2 linked regions of the Homo sapiens genome follow. The protein of the gene in region 1 interacts with the protein of each later gene in a biochemical or structural test. Each region holds a gene or a part of one and is shown in the gene's direction. Other genes may lie near its edges. The genes, in order: CDC26 and LATS1.

What was found.
Region 2: of the proteins of CDC26 (region 1) and LATS1, one has a biochemical effect on the other in vitro, tested with the Homo sapiens proteins (one study listed by BioGRID).

What each region holds. Positions count from the first base shown.
Region 1 is NC_000009.12:113,269,322-113,272,688, reverse strand, and holds part of CDC26 (anaphase-promoting complex subunit CDC26), read left to right. Parts: intron 1-140; 5' UTR 141-181; coding exon 182-262; intron 263-3,367. UniProt on the Homo sapiens protein: Component of the anaphase promoting complex/cyclosome (APC/C), a cell cycle-regulated E3 ubiquitin ligase that controls progression through mitosis and the G1 phase of the cell cycle.
Region 2 is NC_000006.12:149,676,583-149,680,409, reverse strand, and holds part of LATS1 (serine/threonine-protein kinase LATS1), read left to right. Parts: coding exon 1-535; coding exon of another isoform or gene 536-543; intron 544-1,664; coding exon of another isoform or gene 1,665-1,728; intron 1,729-3,672; coding exon 3,673-3,827. UniProt on the Homo sapiens protein: Negative regulator of YAP1 in the Hippo signaling pathway that plays a pivotal role in organ size control and tumor suppression by restricting proliferation and promoting apoptosis.

The sequences.
Region 1 (3,367 bases):
TTTAGAAGTCTATGTGTAAATTCAAATAAATTTTTAATATTTCCATTCACTTTAGTATACATGCTTGCAAATTGATTTTATGTTTTGTATCTGAGACTTTATCACCTTCAGATTTTCCTCCTCTCTTTCATTTTTAACAGCTAATAGTTCACTGGGTTTGGCCCTTAGTGTTGACTTCAGTATGCTGAGACGGAAACCAACACGCCTAGAGCTAAAGCTTGATGACATTGAAGAGTTTGAGAACATTCGAAAGGACCTGGAGGTATGAATACAACTTTGTGTTTTTTTGAGATGGAGTCTCGCTCTGTCACACAGGCTGGAGTACAGTGGCATGATCTTGGCCCACTGCAACCTCTGCCTCCTCTGCCTCAGCCTCCCGCGTGCTGGGACCACAGGTTCATGCCAGCACGCCCAGCTCATTTTTTTATTTTTAGTAGAGTTGGGGTTTTGCCATGTTGGGGCCAGGCTAGTCTCAACTCCTGACCTCAAGTGATCCATCCACCTCAGCCTCCCAAAGTGCTGGGATTACACGCGTGAGCCACTGCACCCAGCCATGAATACAACTTTCAAAGCTTAAGGAATATTTAAGATAATAATTCTTGTGTGGGCACAGTGGCTTACATCTGTAATGCCAGCATTTTCTGGCCAGGAGTTTGAGACCAGCCTGGGCAACATAGTGAGACCTTGTCTCTATGTTGGGCAGGGTGGCGCATGCCTGAGCTACTCAGGAGGCGGAGGCGGGAGGATTGCTTGAGCCCAGGAGTTTGAGGTTACAGTGTGCTATGATGGCTCCACTGTACTCCACACTGGGCAACAGTGAGACTCTCTGTCATACATAAATATGTATATACACACACATACATACACAATAACTTTAACTTCTGAACTGCAGACTCTTAAGCCAACAGCTTATTTGAAATCTCTGTTTGGATGCTTTACAGGCATCTCAAACTTCATGTATGTCTCCTGTGGCTGCTGTAACAAAGTACCACAAACTTCATCGCTTAAGACAACAGAAATTTATTATTTCACAGTTTTATAGGCCAAAAATTAGTATTGCTGGGCTGAAATTTAGGTGTCAGGAGGGCCACATTCCCTATGGAGGATCTAGGGAAGAATCCATTCCTTGGCTCTTCTAGCTTCTGGTGGCTGCTGGCATTCCTTGACTCATGACTGTATCACTCCAGTCTCTGCCTCCAGAGTCATATTGTCTTCTTTTCTGTCTGTGAAAACTTCCTCTGCCTCCTTCTTATGATATGTGTGATTGTGTTTAGGGCCCACCTGACTAACCCAGGATAATCCCCCCTTCTCAAGATCCTTAATTTAGTCACACCTGCAAAGGCCCTTTTCCCATATAAGGCATTTATAGGTTCCAGGATTAGGACCTGCTAGCTTTGGGGGCCATTTTTCAGCCTACTACACTTAACATGTTAAAAAAAGAAGAGAGAAAAACTCTTGATTTCTCCCTTGAACCAGTCGTCCCTTCCATTCTTCCCCAGTGTTTCCCATCTCAGTATTGATTCAGTTCCTCAGGCCAGAAACCTAGCAGTCATTCCTGAGTCCTCCCTTTCTCTTACGCTTTATATTCGATCTGTCTGTAGACCCTTTGATTCTACCTTCAGAATATGTCTGGAATCCACCCATACCTTTTCATCTCCACTGTTACAGTCCTGCGCTAAGTAACCGTCTTTCCCTGTATAATTGTAGTGGCATCCTAACTGGTCTTCTACTTCCATTTTTGTCTCTTTCAGTGCATTCTGCATCCAGTATCAAGAATGATCTTCAGAAATTTTCAAATCCTGTCATTCCCGTTTAAAACTCCTCAGTAGTTTTCTGCACTTATAACAAAATCTGAATTCTTCACCATGGCCTACAAGATTTTGTATGTTCTAGTGCCTCTCCAGATTCATTTTGTGCCATTCTTTGCCTTGCTCTCTATACCCTAGCCACATTGGCTCTCTTTCATTTCCTTGAACATGCCAATCTATTTATCACTTCCATGGACTTTCCACATATTATTTCCCCCTGCCTGGAGTGCTCCCTTTCTTCCAGTCTTCATTCAAATGTCAACTCTTCAATTTAAGAGGCCACTTTTGACCGTATCCAAGTTTCATGTGTCATTCCCGTCCATGCTGCCTCCATCTCTGTAGGCTCTCACAAAGCACCATATTTTTTTCATAGCATTTATTATAATTTACAATTTTTTTTATTGTAAAATCATTTACATTAGGGACGTTGATTGCAGAAATCATGTCTGTTTGCTTCACCATTGAGTTCTTACCATCTAGTTCATAGTAGGGGCCCCATATGTATTTTTAACTGTGGCCTTGCTACATGGTATTAGATGTCCATTAATAAGACTTAAATTCTTCAGTGGTCTACAGAATAAATTCCAAATTCCCTAGCATGGCATATGAGCTCCTTGTGAGCTGGTCCTTGCTTATCTCTCCACTTTCACTGCTGGGTTATCTTTAATCTCAGTGCCTATACACAGTGTTCCCTTTGCCAGAAAAGCCCTTTCTTTTTCTTTGCCAGGCTAACTCTTACTCCTTCCAGCCCCCAGCTGGGTTAGGCTCAACCTTATCCTCCTGTGCTAACCTCTCTCATAGGCACGGTCACTCTCTGTTGTAATTGTCTGTTTGCTTTTGTTTTCCCTCACTGGGCCATAAGCTCCTTGAAGTCAGGGATTAGTATATTTCTCTCTGCATCTGTTCCCTGCAATACCAGGTCCAAAGGAGGGCTCAATGCAAGTCTATTTTCATTTGCTGTCCTAGTAGGTATCTTGTACTATATGGCAGAGGACAGTACGTTTTGCATATATTCACCAACAGCTTTATTATGTATTGTATATGCTTCATATTAAGACTAATAACTTAGATTTCTTTCCCCCTGCTTCATCCCAAGAGACTTTAGTGTTCTCTAAGTATCGTAATTTTTGCTTTCTAAAAACTCATATATTATTAAGCATGAGCTTTAAAGTATGGCTTAAACTTCAGTTGTAACGAATCTCATAAAATGCTAGCATGCTGAACTTTGACTCTACAGTCAGCTCACTATTGAGTTAGTCTTTCCACTAAAGACAGTTATCTAGTGGGTTTTACCTTGTTTTAGAGTAACTTAGGAAGCAGGGACAGTCATGCCCTAAAGTGAAACCAGTAGAAAACTGGCCTGTTTCATTTATTACCAACATGAGTTTGATTATACTACTGTGACTCTAGCTTCTGAAACAGCAGTTGCTCAAAGTGGGAAGCCTTTTAAGTGATTTCATTCCATTTGGATATTCTCAGAATGATAGAGTTGTTTGCCTTTTCGAACTTGTTTTCACAAAGGTATTTAGGTAGAACTTTCTAACATCACTTACTAGTAA
Region 2 (3,827 bases), on another chromosome or scaffold:
CAAAAAGAATCTAATTACATCCGTCTTAAAAGGGCTAAAATGGACAAGTCTATGTTTGTGAAGATAAAGACACTAGGAATAGGAGCATTTGGTGAAGTCTGTCTAGCAAGAAAAGTAGATACTAAGGCTTTGTATGCAACAAAAACTCTTCGAAAGAAAGATGTTCTTCTTCGAAATCAAGTCGCTCATGTTAAGGCTGAGAGAGATATCCTGGCTGAAGCTGACAATGAATGGGTAGTTCGTCTATATTATTCATTCCAAGATAAGGACAATTTATACTTTGTAATGGACTACATTCCTGGGGGTGATATGATGAGCCTATTAATTAGAATGGGCATCTTTCCAGAAAGTCTGGCACGATTCTACATAGCAGAACTTACCTGTGCAGTTGAAAGTGTTCATAAAATGGGTTTTATTCATAGAGATATTAAACCTGATAATATTTTGATTGATCGTGATGGTCATATTAAATTGACTGACTTTGGCCTCTGCACTGGCTTCAGATGGACACACGATTCTAAGTACTATCAGAGTGGTAAGTAAACTCATAAAATTTATTTTAGTTTGTTCATAATAATGTAATTTATTGATGTAGTAAAATATAAGATGGTATCATCACTGGATGAGAGCCAGAAGATGTGGGTCAGGTCTTGATTCTGTTGGATAAACTTGGGTGACTCCATTAGGCACTTAGACTTATGAAATGAAAGAATGTGCTAGACTTGATTGTTTAGACTTATGAAATGAAAGAATGTGCTAGACTTGATTGTTTCTAAATATTATTAACATTTTTGAGTCACACCTTTTACATTTTATTTGAAAATATGCCAGACAAACAATTTTTTTTTTTTTTTTTTTTTGATGGAGTCTCGCTCTGTCGCCCAGGCTGGAGTGCAGTGGCACCATCTTGGCTCACTGCAATATCCCCCTCCTGGGTTCAAGTGATTCTCCTGCCTCAGCCTCCCGAGTAGCTGGGATTATAAGCACCTGCCAGTACGCCCGGCTAATTTTTGTATTTTTAATAGAGATGGGGTTTCACCATGTTGGCCAGGCTGATCTCGAACTCCTGACCTCAGGTGATCCACCTGTCTCAGCCACCCAAAGTGCTGAGATTATAGGTGTGAGCCCCCTGCGCCTGGCCAAAAACATTTTTAAAATAATTTTTTAATGAATCCTCATATCCAACATTCAGTTAAAGAACTAGATTATCAGTACTTTAGAAGCCCTTAAACAATCACTTCCCCTTTTCTCCTCCACAAAGATAATTATTATTTCAGAACTTTATAATCGGTTCTTTACTTTTATCGATCCTTTTATCACAAATGTGTATATCTTTAAATAATATATTATTTCATTTTGCCTACTCTTTAACCTTTATTTAAATATAATCTATATATATTCTTTGTGTTGACTTGTTTGAGGTTCCTCCATGTTATTGCTTGTAACATTTATTTTCACTACTATTTAGGATTTCATTACATGACTGTTACACAACTTATATAACCCTAAACACTTTATGATCCTTGATCCTATTTTATCCTCACAATGTCACTGTGAGGCAGGATGAAGAAACTGAGACCTAGTTAGATGAAGTAACTTGCCCAAGGTCAGACAGAAATCAAGTGTAAGGGCTAGGCTTTGAACCCAGGTTTGTCTGATTTCAGGGCCCATGTTATTTCTACTACACCACACTGCCTCACCAAGATCCCTCCAAGCGCTAATGGAAGTGTAAGTCAATCTAACATTTGTTAAATACTATGTACTAGGTGCTTAACCATATATTCTAATATGCTCGCAACAATTCTCTGAGGTAAGTATTATTAGCCTCCTGTGCTTCTGTGAACACAAGTAGATTGACATTAAAATGGGTAGAACTGAGACAATTGAACCTACTTTAATGTTCGACATAGTGGAATTTAGTGTCTTCCCAGATTCGACTGAATTATTACCTGGAAAGCTTCTTAAAAATATGATTCCTAGGCTCTATTCCCATCTTTTGATCAAAAATCTTCACTGGGGCATAGAAATCTTTTTGTTGTTTTTTGTTTGTTTGTTTGTTTGTTTTTGAGACGGAGTCTCGCTCTGTTGCCCAGGCTGGAGTGCAGTGGCGCAATCTCGGCTCACTGCTAGCTCTGCCTCCCAGGTTCACGCCATTCTCTTGCCTCAGCTTCCCGAGTAGTTGGGACTACAGCCGCCGGCAACCACGCCCGGCTATTTTTTTTTTTTTTTTTTTTTTTTTTTTTTTGGATTTTTAGTAGAGACCAGGTTTCACCGTGTTAGCCAGGACGGTCTCAATCTTCTGACCTCATGATTTGCCTGCCTCTGCCTCCCAAAGTGGCTGGGATTACAGGCGTGAGCGACCACGCCCAGCCTGTTTGTTTTTTTTTTTTTGAGACGGAGTTTTGGTCTGTTGCCAGGCTGGAGTGCAGTGGCGCGATCTCGGCCCACTGCAACCTCCATCTCCTGGGCTCAAGCGATTCTCCTGCTTCAGCCTCCCAAGTAGCTGGAATTACAAGTGTGCTCCACCACACCCAGCTAATTTTTGTATTTTTAGTAGAGATGGGGTTTCACCATGTTGGCCAGGATGGTCTCAATCTCTTGACCTCATGATCCACCCTCCCTGGCCTCCCAAAGGGAAATCATATTTTAATCAAACATCCCAGATAAATATTACAGTTAGGTTAATTTCTTATATTCTAGGTGACTTCATGCCATCTATATGTCAATGAATTCCAAATCTCTCTCTCCAGAAATGGCCTTTCTCTGAAATTCGTAATTTCTCTATCCAGCTGCTTCCTGGCTATCTTCACATGGATTTCAAATAGGCCTTTCAAACTTCACATGACCCATAAAGAACTTTTTTTTTTAAGCATAAATCAGATACTGTTATCTTCTTGCTTCGAACTCTGCAATATCTTCTCACTTTACTTGAGGTAAAAGGCAGACCATTTCTATTGCTTGCAAAACCCACATGTATTCCTGCCGCATTTCTTACAGTTCTTGCCCCATTTCCTACAGTTCTCCCCTTTATCAGCTGTGCTGGTCTTCTCTCTGTTGCTGTTATTTCTGTGTGGAATACCTAATCCTGATTTATAAATGGTTGAGTCCTTCTTGTTTTTTTACGGTTTAGCTGAAGTCACCTTCTTAACTGGTCTTCCCTAGCCATTCAGTCTTATGTAGCTATCCAGTCACATTTGTTACATCACCCTGTGTTGATTCTCTGTGTAGGGTATGTCACTGTTCCTTATATGTGTAATTGTTTTGTTTCTTTTCCTACTAGAATGTAACCAGAGCTTTGTCTTATTATCACTGTCATTTATTGAATGAAAGATGGATCTAATTTGTTTGAAAGTTTGTCCAGAGTAGTAACAGGGAGTGGGCTAAATAACAAACTCTTAATCTCCCCATGACTCATATTGTTGTTATTTAACATTGCATAAATTACTAAATCTTAGGCTAATTTTTTTTAAGTGTAAAATCCTTCCTATTGACATCTCAGAAAATAGGCTCTAATTGGTAATAAACACCATCAGTGATTTGGCATACATTGTGTCTTAGTTTGTCACAAGGGAGAATGTTGTTAACCCTAAACCACGATGTCAGAAGATTAAATAGACTTCAGGTTTACTGTTGTCATTGTTGACTTTATTTACTTATTCTTTTGTTGTGCAGGTGACCATCCACGGCAAGATAGCATGGATTTCAGTAATGAATGGGGGGATCCCTCAAGCTGTCGATGTGGAGACAGACTGAAGCCATTAGAGCGGAGAGCTGCACGCCAGCACCAGCGATGTCTAGCACATTCTTTGGTTGGGACTCCCAATTAT